3 linked regions of the Homo sapiens genome follow. The protein of the gene in region 2 purifies or fractionates together with the protein of the main gene of each other region. This does not show direct contact. Each region holds a gene or a part of one and is shown on either strand. Other genes may lie near its edges. The genes, in order: MAP3K14, CASP10 and TNFRSF10B.

Region 1 (7,107 bases), on a different chromosome or scaffold from region 2:
ATTCCACGGGACTCAGAGAATCCCACCCGGCTCAAGTGTAGGTCTGGAGGACCTCTTTGTCACCACTGCCAGCCTTGCTTTGAGGCCCTGGGAAATGCTTTGAGGTCCTGGGGGACGTTGAAGGCCAATTCCAAGTATTCCCTAGAGTGCCATTCTACTTCTTTGAAAGCTTTCCTCCTGGAGGGTGGGGCCAGCTGCATTGGCTTCTGGGACTCTGCCCGTCAGAGTGTACCTGCCCCCCTTACCTGGCTGCTGATGCCAGTGGCGATGTCTCCCACTTTGACCCGGTGGAACTCCCGGATGTGCAGGTGTTCACCATTAAGAGACTGTATTTGGACTTTCACACCTAGAAGGCGGACAAGGTGATAGTCAGGAGAGCGGCTGCTGGCTCCCCAAGGACCAGGGTCCTGGCAGGGGCTGGGGGAACGTTTTTGTTAAAAGTCACTCTGCCCTATGTAGGGGGAGCAGGTCTGGCTGTGATGGAGCAGCAGAGATAAAATTTAGGCTGGTCTAAGCACAGCTGCATTTTTTTGTTTTTGAGACAGAGTCTCACTGTGTCGCCCTGGCTGGAGTGCAGTGGCGTGATCTCAGTTCACTGCAACCTTTACCTCCCGGGTTCAAGTGATTCTCCTGCCTCAGCCTCTCAAGTAGCTGGGATTACAGGCATGCGCCACTATACCCAGCTAATTTTTGTATTTTTAGTAGAGACGGGGTTTCACCATGTTGGCCAGGCTGGTCTCGAACCCCTGACCTCATGTAATCCACCTGCCTTGGCCTCCCAAAGTGCTGGGATTACAGGTGTGGGCCACCACACCTGGTCACAAAGCTGCATTTTTATAAGAAAAAAAAAATTCAGGCTGGAACAGCCCTCATATTATATACACCTGCTAGTTCTTCCTGGCCGTCAGCACCTGGGATTTGGCCTGTGCATTGCTAAGAGCTGGGGCTGGCTCCTATGGGGAAGTAGTATTTCAACTTGGATGCAAAGCAGAAAGGAACTGAACACAAGGATTCTTAAATTAGATTATGGGCAATTTAGATTGTTGCCTGAGTTGAAGTGGCCTTTGGCCAGCCATGGGGCCCTGATGCCATGAGTCACACTTGCCCTGGAGAGGGCCAGGGAACTCCAAGCTGATGATGCCCTTGTTGTAGCAAAGCCACATCATAACCTATGCAATCAAGCTTGAAAACGAAGGAATTTTATGTTGTCTTTCTCATCTGACCTCAAATCCCAGAGGGGGATTCCTTTTGCTGAGTTTTTGATTAAAATGCTCATGGGTCCTGTTCCTTTTCCCTTTAGAAGAGATTAATTGCTCATTTTCCTGACTCCAGGTCAAGAGACTGCTCTCCTCCCCAAGCTAGGGGAACCTTCTGGGACTCCATCAACTGACAATGAGGGGATAATGGTCCCTCACTGCCCCATCAGGAAAGGCTCATGGGTGATTGGGACCTTTGCTTGAAACCCAACTTACTGGCCAGGAACCTCAAGTTCTGGGACCAGGCGCCTTCCTCCCTCCCACTGTGCCAGAGGAGGGGAGACAAAATCCCTCAATGGCTGTCTAGCTCCAGGCAGATCAGCTGCCACGGGGACTGCTGAGCAGGTGGGAATTGGACTGTACCATTGAAATAGCTTGGGGTGTCGGTGGGCCGCCCCCGGGCCAGCACCATGTTCCAGCTGGAGCTTCGAGCCTCGGCCTGGCTGCTCCAGGAGTGTACGCCTGAGCTCAGGGTGTCCCGCGAGCTTTGAGAGGCCTTTGATGGGTTCTGAAACAACAGGATTGGGTACGGGCTCAGGGCCCTGGGCTCCAGGATCCATCTCCGGCTTGGGTCTCATTTGGGGAAAAGGGGCACTGCTCATGCCCTCAGCTGGAGGAGGGTAAGGGTTGCCTCCATGGGGGACGAAGGCCTGCCTCCCCATTATCTCTGGTGGCAAAACACATTCCCTAATCCCAGAAGGGTAGATTCCCATGGTTTCTCTGACTCTGAACCATGACCACCTCCCCCAACCTAGTGAGGACCCCCACCAGAAGGAAGGGGTGACCCCCATCACCCTCCCTTTACCCACTACTTGCACAGTGTCCATTCACTAGCTGGACGCAAAGCTACTTGCTCTGTGCCAGGGCCGGGAAAACCACACCCCTGGAGCCATGGCTCCGGGGCCACAACCGACTCACCTTCTCACTGTCATCCGACAGGGAGAGGCTGTCGATGCTGAGGCACGAGAGAATTTGCTCCTGCTCCTCCAGAGAAAATGGCTGGGACAGGCTGTTGAGGAATAATTCTGCAGGGAAAAGTGGAAGATGGCTGTGAAAGACTGGGAGGAGGCTGGCTGTGTTTTCAGGGGTTCTTCCTGCACAGTCGGTAGAAGCTGAGCTGCTGGGGAAGGGGCTGGAAGAAAGCCCACACCGCAGGTAAAGAGAAACACCGGCCTCCGCGGGTGGCCCAGGGCCAGTGCTCAGGGCCCCACTGCAGCCACGGCTGCCCGTACCTATTTCCAGCTGCTGCAGTTCCTGCTCCGGGACGGTTGCTTTCCGCTCTGGTGAGCTGGGGTTTCTGGCAGGGGCTGGCTCCAGGGAGGACAGAGGTAAGGGTTCCCACATCCCAGACTCCTCCTTGCTCAAAGTCAAGGGAGGAGACTTGTTTGGCTCTGGGGGCTCTGGTGGGAGAGGAGGCTGGAGCTTAGGGGCTCTGCCTGTTGTCTCCTCAGCTGGCCGGGGCCCTGGGGCCCTTGGCGAAAGCTCTCTCGGCTGGGCATGGAGGGTCTGGTGGTAATTGGCTTGATTTGGCGGTGGATGTCTTGGTTCTTTATATTCTCCCCTCCAAGGGCTCTTCAGACCTCCCACTAGAAAACAGAGAGTACAATGGTGAGGGGAAGCGTGCTGTGCACAGACAGCGGTCCAGGCAGGAGCGGCCTCTCCTGAGTGCAGAAGGGCTAGAGGCAAACAAAGGGGAGGACACTGCCCCGGGCCACCATGGGAGGTGGCTCCAGAGGGCAGCATGGTGGTCTCCACAGGAGACTTCCTCAATAAAATGGTCCCAATATGACAGGGATAGGACTGGATTTCTGTCTTTGATTCTGTTTTTCTTCTAGGTATCAGTAGCAAATTCAAAAACTACAGAATCAGCTCCAGAGGACTTTGTTAACAAGAAAGAGAAGATTGAAAACAGCCCTGGGGCTACACCAACTCAAGAGCTCCCAGGCAAAGTGGCATCCTGGACCCACCATCTCTCCTACCCCATCCTCAGTCGGTACTTCCCCAGGCACCGTTTGTTCTGGCATGGGGCTAGTTCAGCCCTGGGACCACCCTCATCCTTATAACTACCAGCTGTCTTTGGTGAGGTGCAAGATCTCTCTGGTTTTCTTTATTTCATTTTCATTCCTATAATCACAGCCTTTTTTGTGCCCATCCCTCAGGTGACATTCTATTATGTTTGATGTGTCATTTTTGATTTGGTTGTGTCCTTGCAAAATGTGCGTTGTTTTATTTATCAATTTATTTTTATTTTTATTTTTTTAAAGAGATGAGGTCTCATCATGTTGCCCAGGCTGGACTCCAACTCCTGGGCTCAAGCGATCCTTCCACCTCAATCTTCTGAGTGGCTGGGACTACAGATGTGCGCCACCATACCTGGCTATTGATCAATTTTTAGTTTACCAAACAGGCATTATGTTCTGGGTCCCATTCTGTGTCGGGTTCTCTTTTCACTCGGCACCATGGCTTTAGGATCCATCCATGCTGCTCTGTGAACGCCGAGTTGCTTTAACTGCTTGGTGCTCCATGAGGCATCCCCTTTTGTGTCTCTGTCCTCCCAGTGAGGGACCCCATCGTACCCTACTCCCCTCCCACAAAGGAAGCTGTAGTGCGCGTCCTCAGGCGTGTCCCCATATGGATCTGCTGGCATTCGTTTGTCAGTGCACCCAGGGGTAGAAGTCCTTGGTCTCAGTCTGCAGACGTCTGCCTGAGTGCAGCCAGGTGCCCCCCCAGAGTGGGTAGCCTTGTCCACATGCCCATCAGCAGCACCTGAGGGGTCCCAACAGCCCTACATCCCACCAACTTTCTGCTTTTTTCCAGTCAAATGGCTCTTGAGTGTTACCTGGCTTTATTTATTTATTTATTTTTTGAGTCGGGTCTCTGTTGCGCAGGCTGGAGTGCAGTGGTGCAATCATGGCTCACTGCAGCCTCGACCTTCCAGGCTCAAACAATCCTCTCACCTCCTGAGTAGCTAGGACTACACGCATGTGCCACCATGCCTGGCTAATTTTTAAATTTTTTTGCAGAGAAAGGGTCTTGCTATGTTGCCCAGGCTGATCTTGAACTCCTGGCCTCAAGCGATCCTCCTGCCCCAGCCTCCCAAAGTGCTGGGATTACAGGTGTGAGCCACTGCTCCCGGCCTGTCTTTATTTTGTATTCTTGGATTCCTAGTGAGTTTGAGCCCCCTCTATACATCATAACCCTTATGATACTAGTAAACATATATTTTATCTTTAACCCCATTTCTGGCACAGAACTCCTAAAAGCCTTACTCTCCAAAATGATCTCTTTCTGTGTACTAATGGATTGACTGAAGGCTGGCAGCCCCTAGGTAGCTTCAAGATGGGGGCTGGTCATCAGAGAGACATAGGCAGGATTAGAGGGTTGGGACTTTCATCCCACCATCCCACGTACTGGGAGGGAAGGGGGCTAAAGGTTAAGCGGTTCGCCAATGGCCAGTGATTTATTCAATCATGCCTACGTAATGAAGCCTACACAAAAACCCAAGAAGACCGGGTTCAGAGAACTTCTGGTAGCTGGGCACATGGAGGTTCCTGGAGGGTGCCAAGCCCTGGAAGCTCTGTGCTCCCTCCCACATGCCTTGCCCTATGCATCTCTTCATTTGTATCCTTTGTAATATCCTTTCTAATAAACTGGTAAATGTAAGGAAGTGTTTCTCTGAGTTCTGTGAGCCACTCCAGCAAATTAATCAATCCCAAGGAGGGGGTCATGGGGTCCCTGACTTATAGCCAGTTGGTCAGAAGCACAGGTAAACACGTGGGCCTGAGACTGGCATGGCTAGGGGGTGCAGTCTTGGGGATCGAGCCCTCCTGCTGTGGGATCTGATGCTACCTCCAGGTAGATAGTGTTGGAACAGAACTGAATTAGAGGACACCAAGCTAGTGTCTGCTGCAGAACTGATTGCTGGCTTGGTGGGGTGGAAATCCCCACACATGTGGTCACAGGAGTCTTCTGGGTTGATTGTAGTTGAGTGGGAGAATGGAAAAAGCACTTCGAGTTTGCGTGTGAGTTTTCTCTTTCCCATCTCCTGAGCGCTGCCTCTGGGTCCAGGCGTGGCACTGTCGCAATCTCCCAACAACCCTGAGGCTGCTGCACCCCCATAATCCAGAGGGGGAAACTAAGGCTCTGAGGGGTGCCTTGCTCTGGACCTGCGCCCACCTGCCTCCTCTGTCCACCTCTGTCTTCTGCCCCCCGGGTCAGCCAGCGTGGGGCTCTTCCTACCTTGCTGTAGTGCCCGGTTCACCTTCCCTCCCAGCTCCGCTGCAGACACGCGGTGGATGGGCTCTTTCCTCAGCCCCTCTTGGATGGCCTGGGCTGTGAGAGGGGCGCAGGAGGGTGGGATCTCCCTCACAGGCGGAGGCTCGCTGGCAATCTGGGGGGCAAAAGACAACAGGTGAGGCCTGCCTTCCCTCATTTCCTGATACCCGGCTGTTATTGCTCTTTGCGCAACTCCCGCCGGCCCCTGTTCCCGCTGTGCTGGGGTCTACCACAAGGAATGGAGGGGTCTGGGCTACAGTGAGGGCACTTTTCCCAGGAAAGGGACAAATGGAGCCAGTAAAACAGGCCAGAGCCAGGCAGCAAGACGCCCACAGCCTCCAGGCCCGGCCCGTTAGGAGGCAGGTGGATGGGGCCCAGGGTATGGACAGAAGAGAGTTCTCACCTGCCATGAACTTGGTGAGCCTCCGCAGCTGGATCTCCCCTTGTACCCCCAGATTTGGGTGGCAAGTATTTGAATTAGGATCCCACATGGATGACCAGGCCTCCCCTTGCTCCATCTGCCACCGCAGAGCAGCCCCTCCAGCCTGCAGCCTGGGCCCCAGGGCCCTGCAGCTCCCCCTGTTGGCCATGCTGGGTGCCGTCACCGACCTTGAGGCAGAGCGGCCCTCGGAAGAACTGAGTCCAGGGGTGGCAGCCGTTGAGCATGTGCAGCATCATACAGCAGCTGCTCCAGACATCCACCTTGGCGTCGCAGCTCCTGCCCAGCACCACCTCCGGAGCCATGTGGGTCTCTGTGCCAGGGATGTAGTCCCCTGAGAAGGGGGATGAGACATAAAGTTACCTGGAATGCTGATGGGCAGGAGCCTAGGCAATGGCCACCCTGGTTAATCCTCGGGGTATCTTACATTTGTCACTGTTAAAGTACTTTTTATTTTATTATCTTTTTAGTTCTTTGAGATGGAGTCTTGCTCTGTCACCCAGGCTGGAGTACAATGGCGCGATCTTGGCTCACTGCAACCTCCACCTCCCGGGTTCAAGAGATTCTCCTGCCTCAGCCTCCCAAGTAGCTGGAATTACAGGCATGAGCCACCATGCCCAGCTAATTTTTATGTTTTTGTAGAGATGGGGTTTCACCCATGTTGGCCAGGCTGGTCTCGAACTCCTGACCTCAGGTGATCCACCCACCTCGGCCTCCCAAAGTGCTGAGATTACAGGCATGAGCCACTGTGCCCGGACATGTTAAAATACTTTAAATATAGAAATAAAGTCTCCAAGTCAGACTTGTAGGGAGGAGCTAGGCGGGGACTCTGCTGGGAACTTGTACAAAGTAACAGAGCATCCATGATGTGGACTCTGCCCTTTGGACCAAACCCTTAAAGTGTTTTTTAAAAATGGGGCAGGGGCTGGACATTACAAATTAGGTTGTAGAAGGCTAGTAAGTAATACCAGTAAGTAATACTTCTTACTAGTAAGAAATACTAGTAAGTGAAATTTAAAAATTGTAATAGAAAACTTATATGCGTAAAAGACTGAAAGGATAGATGGCAGATGTGAACAGTGGTTTTTTTCCTGGTGATTTGTATTTGTAATTTTTGCTTAGCTCTACTTTCTTCAA
Region 2 (7,107 bases):
GACAAAGGGTTTCTCTGTTTAGGTGAGGACGGGTCTGTGGTGGAGATGGGAGGATCTCCCATCTAGTGTTCATTCTGGCCATTGGGCTTTGAAAGGAAGCTGCAGTTAAGATCTTTTGGTTATCTACCTCCTTGGATGATAAACCAGGAGATTCTAAACCTCCTTCTCAGCCTCTGATGCTAATGAGATAAGAGTTGGGAGGTCAGCAAAGCTTCAAGACCAAGCCCTGGGCCCAGAGGTGGCTTCCCTTTGTTTTGCTTCTCACTAGCAGTGAAGCCCACCTCAGTGTGGCAGAGCCCGTGTTTTCCCTGCTTACCAGCGGCTACACGTGCAGATCTTCTCCCTCCTGGGATCCACTAGTCTGTCTACCTGTTTCCCGGGGTCTTGAGAAGAGAGTAATGCATACTTGGAGTGAAATAAGCAAGATGAAAAAAGAGATGTGTTTCTGGGGTAGGGAGGGATGTCATTTATGCCATGTCTAGTTATAGAAATTTCTATATTTTTGGGTGGGAATCCAGAAAGGTAAAAACAGGCATTTTGCCCAAAGAGGTAAAATTTAGGCATTGGTCTTATCATGGATGACAGCGTTTTATTTTTATTTTGAGACAGAGTCTCGCTCTGTCACTCAGGCTGGAGTGAAGTGGCACCATCTCAGCTCACTGCAACCTCCGCTTCCTGGGTTCGAGCGATTCTCCTGCCTCAGCCTCCTGAGTAGCTGGGACTACAGGCACCCACCACCACACCTGGCTAATTTTTGTATTTTTAGTAGAGACAGGGTTTCCAACATGTTGGCCAGGCTGGTCTGGAACTCCTAGCCTCAAGTGATCCACGCACCTCGGCCTCCCAAAGTGCTGGGATTATAGGTGTGAGCCACTGTGCCAGGCTGATGACAGTGTTTAAAATTGTTCACTGACATAGTGTCCACATCAGAGAACCTCACGAAGAGGAGCCTTTGGAGGGTGTTTTATGGTCTCTGCGATTAGAACACATTAAGCCTTAGCGGTGGAACTGGCTTCCAGAACCTGAGTTGCCCTTGAGTCAGTGGAAGGAATGATGAATTCCAGAAATCCATATTTCCATTCTGCTGGCTAAACATCTGAGGGACAGTCTCTGACACATAGGGGTGTTAGTATGTGGATGAAATCCTCACTGTTTCTGGTTGTGGATTATATCTCGAAGCTGGGGTAGTTTTCTTCCCTTTTCAATATACAACCGACTGTACCTTGGCTGGCCTGGGGTCCTATCTACCAAGGGCCTGTAAAGTAAGCCTGAATTTCTTGATGGAATCAGGAGATGGGAAGGCATGTCAGAATTGTGTTTTATGCCTTTTTTTTTTTAAATATGCCTTCTTAGTGTGGTGAAAAACAGCATTAGACTTGGAGTCAGAAGGCCTGCTTCTACCACTTACTGTGTTATCTTTATTTAAACAAGTCACTTAGAAACTGAAAGTTTTCATTTTTTGAACCTATAAATGGGATTAATAATTGTCTACACATAGAGTTGATCATTCAAATGACAGAAAACATTTATGAAAGCACTTGATTGATTATGGTGTCCTCCACAAGTGTAAGGCTTTATTTGTCATTTTGGGTGTGTGTCTTAGAAACCTGCTCTACGAACTGTCAGAAGGCATTGACTCAGAGAACTTAAAGGACATGATCTTCCTTCTGAAAGACTCGCTTCCCAAAACTGAAATGGTGAGTGGGTCATACAGAATGGGTCTGTGTGAGCACTGTCTTAATCAATGATTAGAAAGATGCTGGAAAGGGTTTTTAGGGAGATTTATTTTTTATGGGAGACAGTATCATACAATGGTTACGAACATTGGCTTTGGTGCTGGATGAGCCTAGATTCTGGTCCTGATTCTAATTCTAAACCCATGCTGTGAGGCCAATGATTGAACTTTTCTGAGTCTCTATTTTCTTAGACGTAAAATTGTGGGCAATCGTATGACTTCCTTCTAGGATTGTTGGGAGAATTAGCTGGAATAATGTTCATGAAGCATTAGCATGAGGCCAATATTTGGTATAGCATTCAGTAAATGCTCACTTCTGTTGGAATCTGTTGTGTTTTGTTTTTGTTTTTGTTTTTTTTTGAGACGAAGTCTTGCCTTGTTGCCCAGGCTGGAGTGCAGTGGCATGATCTCAGCTCACTGCAACCTCCACCTCCTGGGTTCAAGCCATTCTCCTACCTCAGCCTCCCTAGTAGCTGGGATTACAGGCATGCACCACCATGCCCAGCTAATTTTTGTATTTTTAGTACAGACAGGGTTTCACCCTGTTGGGCAGGCTGGTCTAGAACTCCTGACTTCAAGTGATCTGCCTGCCTTGGCCTCCCAAAGTGTTGGGATTACAGGTGTGAGTCACCGCACCTGGCCTTGTCCAGTTTTTTCTTTCAAGTGCCTTTTAATCTGTAGGTTAGATTTCCTCCCTGCCCCCAAATCTCTTTCTTTTTCTTAAAATGTATCTGTTGAAGAATCTCTGGGCGGTTGGCCTGTGGAGTTTCTCACAGGCTGAGTTTTGCTGATTGCACACTCGTGGTGCAGTTTGGCATGTTCCTCTGTCCTCTGCATTTCCTGCAGACTGGCAGCTGAATCCAGAGGCTTCATCAGACTCAGGTCAGATCCGTTTGGCAAGACTATAGGTAGTCTTGTTTTTTCATCAGGAGGTACCTGATTTTCTCTCTCTTTTTCTTTGATATTAGCAACTGTTGATGTTCAACCATTTTATATATTGAATTTTGAGGGGTTGCAAAAATGGAGATATTAGAATTTTTTTTTTTTTTTGAGATGGAGTCTCACTCTTGTCACCCAGGCTGAAGTGCAATGGCACAATTTCAGCTCACTACAACCTCTGCCTCCTGGGTTCAAGCGATTCTCCTGCCTCAGCCTCCTGAGTAGCTGGGATTACAGCAGCCTGCCACTACGCCTGGCTAACTTTTTGTATTTTTAGTAGAGATAGGGTTTCACCATATTGGCTAGGCTGGTCTGGAACTCCTGACTTTAGGTGATCCACCCGTCTCGGCCTCCCAAAGTGCTGAGATTACAAGTGTGAGCCACCATACCCGGCCACATATTAGAATTGTATCATTTCGTTTTCCCTTCATCCATTATTTGGTTACCCAGTGATACAGCTTATATGTGAATCCTTGATTCTTTTCTTTCAGTTATTTTTTTTTTTTTTTTGAGACGGTGTCTCACTTGGTCATCCAGGCTGGAGTTCAGTGGTGTGATCTTGGCTCACTGCAACCTCTGCCTCCCAGGTTCAGGTGATTCTCCTGCCTCAGCCTCCTGAATATCTGGGATTACAAGCAGGCACCACCATGCCTGTCTAATTTTTGTATTTTTAGTAGAGACAGGGTTTCATTTGGCCAGGTTGGTCTCAAATTCTTGACCTCAAGTGATCTACCTGCCTCAGCCTCCCAAAGTTCTGGGGATTACAGGCATGAACCACTGTGCTTTGCCTAGTTATCCAGTTTTTAAGTTAATTGGTATCTTATCATTCTCTGAAGGTGACCCATTACAAAATATATATAAATTTAAACTCATGGATTTAAACATATGTGAGGTATTTCAATCTACTGCAATTATTATCCTTACTGAAGTTCAAACTGAGGCTGGGCATGGTGGCTCATGCCTGTAATCCCAGCACTTTGGGAGTCTGAGGTGGACAGGTCACTTGAGCCTCAGGAGTTTGAGACTAGACTGGGCAACATGACAAAACCCGGTCTCTACAAAAAATACAAAAATTAGCTGGGTGTGGTGGCGTGCACCTGTAGTCCCAGCTCCTCAGGAGGCTGACATGGGAGGATCGCTCGAGCCCAGAGAAGTCAAGGCTGCAGTGAGCAATGGCTGTGCCATTGCACTCCAGCCTGGGTAACAGAGTGAGACCCTGTCTCAAAAAAATAGTTCAATTGTCCCATTTTTTCCCAGGGGATACATCTTCAGTTTGGTTCCTAAGTCATTTTGACATGACCTTAGTAGTCTTTGATGGCTTCTTTACTATCTGGCAAAAATATCCCAGGTTCATCTTGTATATTTTCTACCCAGTCCTGGAATCTCTCATTTCTCCCAAAAATCCTGACTTCTTTTAATGAGAGATGTCATTTCAAGACCACAAACTCGATGCTGGCATGCTCATTGCTTTTGAGTAAATATATATGCACACACTACGTATATACACATATGTATACACACACACACACACATGCACACACACACATGACCTAAAGGTTCAGTAATTCTTGGAGAATTTTAAAAATCAGGCGATTTTGTTTTAGGGAATTCTTTTTTATAAAACATTGTAAGGATCTTCTGCTTTTGCCGTAAAATTTCAGTGCCCACATTTGCAGTGGTACAAAGCAATTACCTGCTCAAATGGTAGCATTATACCTTAAATACAGAATTTCTCAAAGTCAGAGGAGATTCCTGTAGTTTGACAAGCGCTCCAGGTGGTTTTCATAACATTCTCTCCCAAGTTGGGGCATCCGCTCACAAATTTTCCAGTGTCTAGGTTTATACATAAAATGAGACCACTTTTTATTGTTATACCCCGTCCTATGTTAGGGACTCTCTGAACAATATGAGGTGGCGGGTGAGGGACGAGAGAAAGGTCATTTGTTAAAGCAATCTCTGATATTCGAAACACTGAGTGTTAGTTTTCAAACAAGAAAAGCTGGAAAATGTTTTTTTTTCTCTTTTGCTTGCACAGGTTCTAGAACTCTACTTGAAGGCATCTGTGGCTACAGAATTATTATTATTATTATTATTATTATTTTTAGACAGAGTTTCACTCTTGTTGCCCAGTCTGGAGTGCAATGGTGCCATCTCGGCTCACTGCAACCTCTGCCTCCTGGGTTCAAGTGATCCTCCTGCCTCAGCCTCCTGAGTAGCTGGGATTACAGGCGCCCACCACCACACCCAGCTAATTTTTGTATTTTTAGTAGAGGTGGGGTTTCACCATGTTGGCCAGGCTGGTCTTGAACTCCTGACCTCAGGTGATCCACCTGCCTCAGCCTCCCAAAGTGTTGGGATTACAGGTATGAGCCACTGTGCCTGCCCAGAATTATTTTTATGGTCAGAAGCATTCCAAACATTTCCCCCCTACTAAAATAGCTTTTAAATGATCAAATGCACATGTTCATGTGGCCAAATGATCTTGTTTTTCTCAGTATAACAGTAAAAGGAAACGTAACTGTGCTTAGCTGTGGCATGGAATTGTGATATTACCAGGTCAAATTCAGGAAAACCATATTTCCTCTTTGGATTCCAAATGATCTCAGCTTTTTTTTGTTGGGGGCGGGGTGGGGAGATCTCATTTTTTGTGTCAGAATTGTGGCTGAGTTACACACCTCAGATAATCCAGGTTGATCTGTATTGGATTTTGCAATCAGACCAGCCTTTGGAAGTGTGTAAAGGACAGTCTCTAAGCAACACAGATGTTTCCACACCAGGGCTCAGTGAGGCTGCATTATCTGCAACTGCAATTGCAAAAGACCTTATCACAGAAATAAATTACTTACCCACCATTGGAAAAGGGCCTGAACACCCCTCAGCCAAAACGGAAAGGTTCTAAATTCTTACAGTCTCTCTGGGGAAACACAAATAACCTTGCCTTTGAGGGGCATTCTGGGCTTTGTCTTTGATAGCTTTCATAGAAATGTAAGCAGTATAGCTGGCCTACACATATCCTGAGAGATCTCACAACTGTCAGGAAATCCGTTCTCAGCACAGCAATCAGCATACAACATTGAGTCTAAAGGAAACCACACCTGAACTTACTCTTTAACAAAAAAGCAAAAAAAGAACTTTCAGATGTTTGCTGCTAGTATTTGCCAGAGTGGTGTTAAACTAATGTCCAGGTCCCATTTAAGTATGTGCGTGTGTATGTGTGTGATGTACTAAACATCTAATAAACTTTTAGAAAGTATAATGAATTTCCGTAATTGCTTCTGGAATCACATCTTAGCCCTTTATTCCTCCTGGTAGGATGCTGTCAAGACATGAGTTTCTGGCCTGGCAGGGTGGCTCATGCCTGTAATCCCAGCACTTTGGGAGGCCAAGGCAAGCAGATCACCTGAGGTCAGGAGTTTGAGACCAGCCTGGCCAACATGGTGAAACCCATCTCTGTTAAAAATACAAAAATTAGCTGGATGTGGTGGCATGAGCCTGTAATCCCAGCTACTCAGGAGGCTGAGGCAGGAGAATGGCTTGAATGGAGGTGGAGGTTGCTTTGAGCTGAGATTGCACTACTGCACTCTAGCCTGGGAGACAGAGTGAGAGACTCCATCTCAAAATAATAATAATAATAATAATAATAATAATAGCTGAATTGTGATTTTTTGTTTCAGAAAATTCTTTTTCTTTTAAAATATCAAATATAAAATTCTTTCGAAACATTTTCCCCTCATTTCTTTGGTGTCCCTCTTTTGCTGGCTTCCTAAGCAGTATCATTTAAAGCTGTGACTTAGAGTTCAGTGGTTAATAACATAGACTTTGGCATCAGATTGTACCAGCTCTGCCATTAATTAGCTTTGTGACCTTCGGCAAGTTACTGGAATTTCTTTGTGCCTCAATTATTTCATCTTTAAAATGTGGATTATAATAATATCTACTTATTCAGTTGTTGTGCTGTTAATATACAGCAAGCACTGTCCCTGTTGCATAGAGTTATATATATATTTGGTATCTGGTATTAATATAGATTGTATACAGATTTGCTTGGTAATGCCTCTTCCCCTACATTCCTGAGCAACTTGAGGGCAGATGCTGTTATATCTTATTTATCAGTGCAAAACCTAGTGCCTACTGGCCATGCAGATAACATTTGAGTGAGTGGATAATCAATAGGCAAGTAAATGTAACTCTATTGATTCTCTTGTAGACCTCCCTAAGTTTCCTGGCATTTCTAGAGAAACAAGGTAAAATAGATGAAGATAATCTGACATGCCTGGAGGACCTCTGCAAAACAGTTGTACCTAAACTTTTGAGAAACATAGAGAAATACAAAAGAGAGAAAGGTAAGTAGCTTGTGATTGCTAACTTGGACCAGACCATGGAAATTCTTAAACCAATTGGCCATGCATGATGTTTTGATTATTTGTTTTGTT
Region 3 (7,107 bases), on a different chromosome or scaffold from region 2:
AGTGAGACTACGTCTCAAAAATAAAAAATAAAATAAATAAATGTGTGGCTTATATTTCTTTTGGCAGTGCTGGTTTAAGGTGTGTAAATGCAGAATTGATGAACTGACCAAGCTAGGTAGAGGAGATTTCCCTCTTTTGGTTCCACACATCCCTGAAAGAGGAGTCCCCCAGCCACCACTGCCAGCTTCTGGGAATCCTGTGGCATTTCATTCACCGGCTTTTCTCTCCCCTCCCAGGACACCATATCTCAGAAGACGGTAGAGATTGCATCTCCTGCAAATATGGACAGGACTATAGCACTCACTGGAATGACCTCCTTTTCTGCTTGCGCTGCACCAGGTGTGATTCAGGTACAGAACATATGGACCCCATGCCTAAAGGTGGAATGCGGGGTGATGACATAAAAGTTGTAGCTAAAATGGGATCAGGAGACCTAGATTCTGGTCCACCTTGGTCTTCATCATACCATGTTCCATGATTTTGTCTTTGAGCTTTTTAATAAATAAAACAGGCCCGGCACAGTGGCTCATGCCTGTAATCTCAACACTTTGGGAGGCATCACTTGAGCCCAGGAGTTTGAAACCATCCTGGGCAACATGAGAAACCCCGTCTCTACAAAAATATAAACATTAGCCGGGCATGGTGGCGCGTGCCTGTATTTCCAGCTACTTAGGAAGCTGAGGCAGAAGGATCTCTTGAGCCCAGGAGGCCGAGGTTGCAGGGAGCCGAGATTGTGCCACTGCATTCCAGCCCAGGCAACAGAGCAAAACCCTGTCTCAATAATTAATTAAAATAATAATAATACAGAAATTATTTGTATAATGTATGCTACATGGTAAGGAAATCTTTTAAACTGTCAGCTGCAAGGGGGTGGGGCCATGAGCCAGGCCAAGTGGACAGGGCTGGATCTCAGCAGTGGCACAGGTCTGCTTTGGGGCCAGGCTCTCTCCCCTGGGCTCTGTGCTCCTGGCAGGTGCTCGGCCTCACTCACCCTTCAGGTTCTCAGGCCTCTCCCTCCTCCCCAGCAGGCTGGGCCTTGGGGAAGTCCCCCAAGGGCTCCTCTCCTTGCAGTCTCTCAGGTGATCCCTTGCACTTCCCTTGCTACTGGCCATGCAATCTAAACGATGCTTGTCCCCTAAACGGTGCTTTCCCCTAATCTAATGTAATAAATAATGAACTGTGGTCCTTTTGTATGACTCAACGAGTGTTAGTGACAGCTGAAGGGTGGGTATCCTGAATGAGCCATGAGTGTGCTGGTGCAGAAACTGGCCCTCAGAACTCCTTGGCAAACTGAGTTGAGCTGAGTAGCAGGGTCTTGGGGTGGGGAGGAAGGGTCAAGGGACACATCAGGAAAACACATTCCCAAAACCTTATGCTCTGTCGTCAGGTGAAGTGGAGCTAAGTCCCTGCACCACGACCAGAAACACAGTGTGTCAGTGCGAAGAAGGCACCTTCCGGGAAGAAGATTCTCCTGAGATGTGCCGGAAGTGCCGCACAGGGTGAGACAGGAGCCGGGGGCTCCCAGTAGCTCCATGGAACCCCAAAAGACCCAAGTCTCCTTGTACCCCTGTCTCTCCCCTGACAGCACCCGCAAGGGGCATCCTTGAGGCTGTGGCTGCCCCTCCTGGTCCCTCTGCGTGTCACCACCCCTGCCCCCTGCAGCAGCCTCTTTCCACCCCTCCCCAGCACGAGTCCCCTTGACCAGGCTGACTTGTTCACTGACCACAGAAGGCCATGACTTGGGGCCCATGATAATTTTAGGGGCCCATGAAATGATTTAATTTCTCTTGAAATAAGAAGAATGAGTAGAATGCAGCCAGGCATATATTCATCTTTATACCAATTCAGCAATAAAATGTATTTTTTAATATTTTTATGCATGCAGGGGCCCATAAAGACAAAAGTGCCCATGGCCCACAAAAGGCATAATAAGGCCATGGGTGGAGCTCCTTCAAGTTCCCATGAGGACCTGAGCCCACCCAGCCGGCCTCACCCCTGGCCCCTGATCCCTCAGTAAGACCTGTCTTTTCCCTATTTGGGTTTTAGGGGCCAAGAGTAATTTGCTCTTCTCTGGCCCCCCTAGTATTTGCTGTGATTGGGGGAAATGGGCAGACAGCTGGGGACAAGAGCTCACTTTTGTGGTTGACTGGAAGACCGGACTCATCTTGTGGCCACACGGGCTTGTGACCTTCCCCTGGAGTGTGATTGCTCCTAACGCAGGCCTCCCCTGCAGCCCAGGGAAGCTCAGTGTGTGCCCAGCACAGAAGGCTCCTGGAACTGCAGCTCTGACCCCAGAGCAGGGAGGCCGAGGGGCTGAAGTGCGCATGCTCAGACCCTTCCCCAGCCTCAAGAAGGGAGCACAGGGGGACCCACTGCTGACACGAGGAGACTGTCCTTCCCCTGACACCTTCTCAGGGACACTGGGGAGGGAGGGTGGCTCCTCTTTCATCCCACCTGGCCAGCTTTCCATCAAGAGTCCCCCCTCTCCCTCTGTGTGTGTACCCAGGTGTCCCAGAGGGATGGTCAAGGTCGGTGATTGTACACCCTGGAGTGACATCGAATGTGTCCACAAAGAATCAGGTACAAAGCACAGTGGGGAAGTCCCAGCTGTGGAGGAGACGGTGACCTCCAGCCCAGGGACTCCTGCCTCTCCCTGTTCTCTCTCAGGCATCATCATAGGAGTCACAGTTGCAGCCGTAGTCTTGATTGTGGCTGTGTTTGTTTGCAAGTCTTTACTGTGGAAGAAAGTCCTTCCTTACCTGAAAGGCATCTGCTCAGGTAGGTGCTGGCTGAGGGCGGGGGCACAGGGCACTCTCTGCCCTGCCCCCTCCCACCCTATTCCCACAGACAGAAACGCCTGCCCCTGCCCCAAGTCTAAGTGCCTCCAGCCTGGCTCTATCCTCCTCCTCGTGGTCACCCCCATCCCCACATCCCGTGCACCCCCCAGGACCCTGGTCTCTTCAGTCCCTCTCCCAGGTCTGGGGGTCCCCATATCTCCCAGCCAAGTCCAGGAGGGCAGGGCCAGTTCCTCCCATCTTCAGGCCCAGCCAGGCAGGGGGCAGTCGGCTCCTCAACTGGGTGACAAGGGTGAGGATGAGAAGTGGTCGTGGGATTTTTTCAGCCTTGGTCAGAGCAGAACCAGAGATTTTCCAAGTGTTTGTTTTTACTCTAGTTCCCCTTCTCATCCCCCTTCCTCAGGGTGTCTCTGAGTTGTAAGGCCCCATTCTGTCCCCAGCCCCAGGGCTCCTTGTCCAGTGTCCCAGCCCCCAGCCCAGCCCTGCGCCCCACTGTCCTCTGGGAGGGGGGTGCTTCATGGGCCCCTCCCTTCCTGCTAAGGAGACTGCTTCTTTTTTAGGTGGTGGTGGGGACCCTGAGCGTGTGGACAGAGTGAGTTGATTTCTCCAGGAGCTGGGGGCTCAGGGGTTCAGGAACTGCTTCCTGGGACAGCAGAACCTGGGTGGGTGGGTCCCCATTGTCCTCATGGCTGCCCTGACTCTCTGAAGTGGCCTGGGTGCTCTGGGCTGACTGTGGGGGACACATGGCCATTTTGAGCACCACATAGGCTGGTGAGCCCTGCTGCAGCCCAGGTGACATCCTCACCCCACAGCCTGCACCCTAGGGATGGGGTGTCTGCCTGAGCACAGCACTGGGGGCCTGGCCCCAGCAGCGGGTCCTGGATGTGCTGAGTCTGGGCTGCCTGCGGTGACCTCACTGAGAGGGGGTGGGGATGTCAGGTGCAGCTGCATACTGAGGACCCTGCAGCGAGCCCTAGGTGTGGACTCCTGAGTCGGCTTTTTGCCTTCCCAATGTCTTTTTCCAGAGCTCACAACGACCTGGGGCTGAGGACAATGTCCTCAATGAGATCGTGAGTATCTTGCAGCCCACCCAGGTCCCTGAGCAGGAAATGGAAGTCCAGGAGCCAGCAGAGCCAACAGGTGTCAACATGTTGTCCCCCGGGGAGTCAGAGCATCTGCTGGTGAGTGGGGGACAGATCATTTTGTTTCCTGGCATGCTGCTCACCTGGGATTTCGTAGACAGTGGGAGAGGGCAGTGCCTTAGCTCTCCTGGCCCAGGGGAAATGGAACCTGAAGGAGCCAGGGGACTGCAGGGGATGGAGCAGCTGCACTGAGGTGGTGACCGTGCCAGTCTGCAGGACATCTGCTTCTTACTCCCTGTCCTGTCCTTGCTGTGTCCCCCGAGCCTGGAGCTCCACAGGCATAGAGTGGGGGTCACAGGGTTCATTGATGAGTGAATAAGGCTGCACAGTCTCCATCGTATGCTCCTAACAGAAGTCAGTGAGCCCTTGCTTGTAACAGCAGGAGTTTTAAATTTACTCTGAAATTGTTATTACATTGAACATATTTCAAAGTTCGTAGGGCAGCTTCCAAAAAGTAGGATTCCAAGTCGATGCACAAAGGGCTTTTGTATTGGACACACGCACACAATCAGTTCATATCAATCCATCAGTTTTGATGTGATATTGAGTAGGCAGGAAATCTGTATATACATTTATTGTTCATTGCTCGTAAGCACTGAAAGTCCTTCCCTCGAACATAAGATGAGACTATCCAGTTTCCTGCAGTGTTTTATTTTTAATGATTTGATTTTTAACATACAGCAATATAATCTAAACAGAATTGAATTTTCGATTCAATATAAGCTGAGAAACTCCCTGAATTATTCTGAGTCTCTGTTTCCTTCTTCCAAGCCCATTTAGCAACCAATTCTTCCTTTTTCCCTTGCCTTTGCCCTTTTGCCACCTCCTTTGCTACATGTCAAATGTTTACTTTTTTCTCTCTTCCTCTTCACTCTTTTTTAAAAAAACAAACAAACAAAAAAAAACTAGATCTTATCCTTGAAAATGTCAAATGTTTATATGGGCAGAGATCTCTTCCACCTAGACTGTTTCTGTTTCTTCCTTGCATCTGTACCACTTTCTTTTTAAATAAAGAGAAGAGATTTTAAAAGGAAACAAATGAACAATGCCAATACTTCCTCCATGCTTATTAATGACTTTGAAGATTTTTTTTTTTGAGACAGGATCTTGCTCTATCACCTGGGCTGGAGTGCAGTGGCACCATCTTGGCTCATTGCAACCCCTGCCTCCTGGGCTCATGTCATCCTCTCACCTCAGCTTCCTGAGTAGCTGGAACTATAGGCATGTGCCACCGTGCCCAGCTAAGTTTTGTATTTTTTGTAGAGACGAGGTTTGGTCATGTTGCCTAGGCTGGTCTCGAACTCCTGAACTCAGGCAATCCACCCTCCTTGGCCTCCCAAAATGCTGGGATTACAAGCATGAGCCACCATGCCTGGCCTGATCATTTTTTGAAAGCAGGTCACCCATAGCCACACATCCACCAGAGTATGAAAAAACTTGATCATACCAAGAGCCTTCTTTACTCTTTCCCAGCCTTTTGGCCCTTCTTATTTCAGGTAACTACAGTGGATAATTTCTTGTGATTCTTTGCTAAACTCTTTATGCATATACCATCTAGGTACATAAATGCATATGTATTTATGTGGTATTGACATGAAAAGGATTATATCATGTACAACACCAAACAAAACTGTCTAATATGTTTTAATATCTTAGACAGCAAATATGTTTTCAAAATTATTTTTACACATCTTATAATTTAGAATTAGATAAAATTTAGAATTATAAGATTTTCTCTAGTACCCCTCCCGCCCACATAGTCACTAGACTTTACAAATATTAATTTAAATTAATACATGGTTCTAGGAATGATTGACATCCTTTCAACATTCAATTTTATTATCAAAGAAGATAATATTTCAAGTCAAGTGTTCTATTATGACTCAATCGAGATTTGGGAGTTTATTTCAGATAAATTTTTCCTATTCCTCATCAAAGCTGTTTCTTTGCATTTTGGGTCTTCTTGTAAGTCCATTTTCTAATTTATTATGTCTGCTGCTACTTTTCTTTTCTTTCTTTCTGAGATGGGTCTCACTCTTGTCACCCAGGCTGGAGTGCAGTGGTACAATCATGGCTCACTGCAGCCTTGACCTTCTAAGGCCAAGTAAGCTCGGACTTACCGGCTTCTGAGTAGCTCGGACGACAGTTTTGTGCCACTACACCCAGCTTATTTTATTTTATTTTATTTTATTTTTAGAAACAGGATCTCGCTATGTCGCCTAGGCTGGTCTCAAACTCCTGGGCTCAAGCAGTCTTCACACCTCAGCCTCCCAGAGTGCTGGGATTACAGGTGTGAGCCACCATGCCTGGCCTCTGCTATGTGGTTTAACATTCATCAGGGCTAGGTGCAGTGGCTCACGCCTGTAATCCCAGCACTTTGGGAGGCCGAGGCGGATGGATCATCTGAGGTAAGGAGTTTGAGACTAGCCTGGCCAACATGGTGAAACCCTGTCTCTACTAAAAATATAAAAATACGATAAAATAATTAGCTGGGCATGGTGGTGCACACCTGTAATCCCAGCTACTTGGGAGGCTGAGGCAGGAGAATCTCTTGAACCCAGAGGTGGAGGTTGCAGTGAGCCAAGATCGCACTATTGCACTCCAGCCTGGGAGACGGAGTGAGACTCTGTCTCGAAAAAAAAAAAAATCATCAAGACATATTCACTTTTGAGTATTACAAATTAAACCTTGGGGTTTTAAAAATATACACTCCTAATCTAAAATATTGACTGCTGTATCGGCCTCCTTCCGAGAGTCTTGCCCCTTTGTCTCCTGTCTTGTTGCCAGACCTTTCAGAACAATGTTCTGGAAGTGACGTGCTGCAGGTCTCAGAGCTGGCTGGTGGTCGGGGTCAGTACTGGACTGTAGGACTCCTGGCTCTGACCAGGACATTCCCCACTATGTGTTACAGGAACCGGCAGAAGCTGAAAGGTCTCAGAGGAGGAGGCTGCTGGTTCCAGCAAATGAAGGTGATCCCACTGAGAGTAAGTGTTTTGCTCCTGGAGATGCAGCAGGAATGGAGGGAATAGGGACAGGGTCCTAACTGCTGTCCCCAGAGGTCAGAGGGCTCTTCCAGAGTATTCCATGCTGGAAGCCGTGGGTCCTGTGCTATAGACCATCTGGACCCTAAACTGTCTTCTCCCATCTCTTCTCCCCACTCTACCTCATC

The links.
Region 1: the proteins of CASP10 (region 2) and MAP3K14 purify together in Homo sapiens (affinity purification with western blotting; 2 studies listed by BioGRID and IntAct, with this or other methods). This does not show direct contact.
Region 3: the proteins of CASP10 (region 2) and TNFRSF10B purify together in Homo sapiens (affinity purification with western blotting; 2 studies listed by BioGRID, with this or other methods). This does not show direct contact.

The regions. Positions count from the first base shown.
Region 1 is NC_000017.11:45,264,918-45,272,024, forward strand, and holds part of MAP3K14 (mitogen-activated protein kinase kinase kinase 14), read right to left. Parts: intron 6,305-7,107; coding exon 6,141-6,304; intron 5,647-6,140; coding exon 5,496-5,646; intron 3,714-5,495; exon of another isoform or gene 3,092-3,713; intron 2,843-3,091; coding exon 2,489-2,842; coding exon of another isoform or gene 2,282-2,488; coding exon 2,175-2,281; intron 1,765-2,174; coding exon 1,620-1,764; intron 1,602-1,619; exon of another isoform or gene 1,333-1,601; intron 347-1,332; coding exon 246-346; intron 1-245.
Region 2 is NC_000002.12:201,186,103-201,193,209, forward strand, and holds part of CASP10 (caspase-10 isoform 1 preproprotein), read left to right. Parts: coding exon 1-22; intron 23-1,603; coding exon 1,604-1,697; intron 1,698-6,881; coding exon 6,882-7,017; intron 7,018-7,107. UniProt on the Homo sapiens protein: Involved in the activation cascade of caspases responsible for apoptosis execution. Recruited to both Fas- and TNFR-1 receptors in a FADD dependent manner. May participate in the granzyme B apoptotic pathways.
Region 3 is NC_000008.11:23,024,003-23,031,109, reverse strand, and holds part of TNFRSF10B (tumor necrosis factor receptor superfamily member 10B isoform 1 precursor), read left to right. Parts: intron 1-237; coding exon 238-351; intron 352-1,388; coding exon 1,389-1,500; intron 1,501-2,507; coding exon 2,508-2,779; intron 2,780-3,356; coding exon 3,357-3,388; intron 3,389-3,821; coding exon 3,822-3,977; intron 3,978-6,849; coding exon 6,850-6,922; intron 6,923-7,107. UniProt on the Homo sapiens protein: Receptor for the cytotoxic ligand TNFSF10/TRAIL. The adapter molecule FADD recruits caspase-8 to the activated receptor.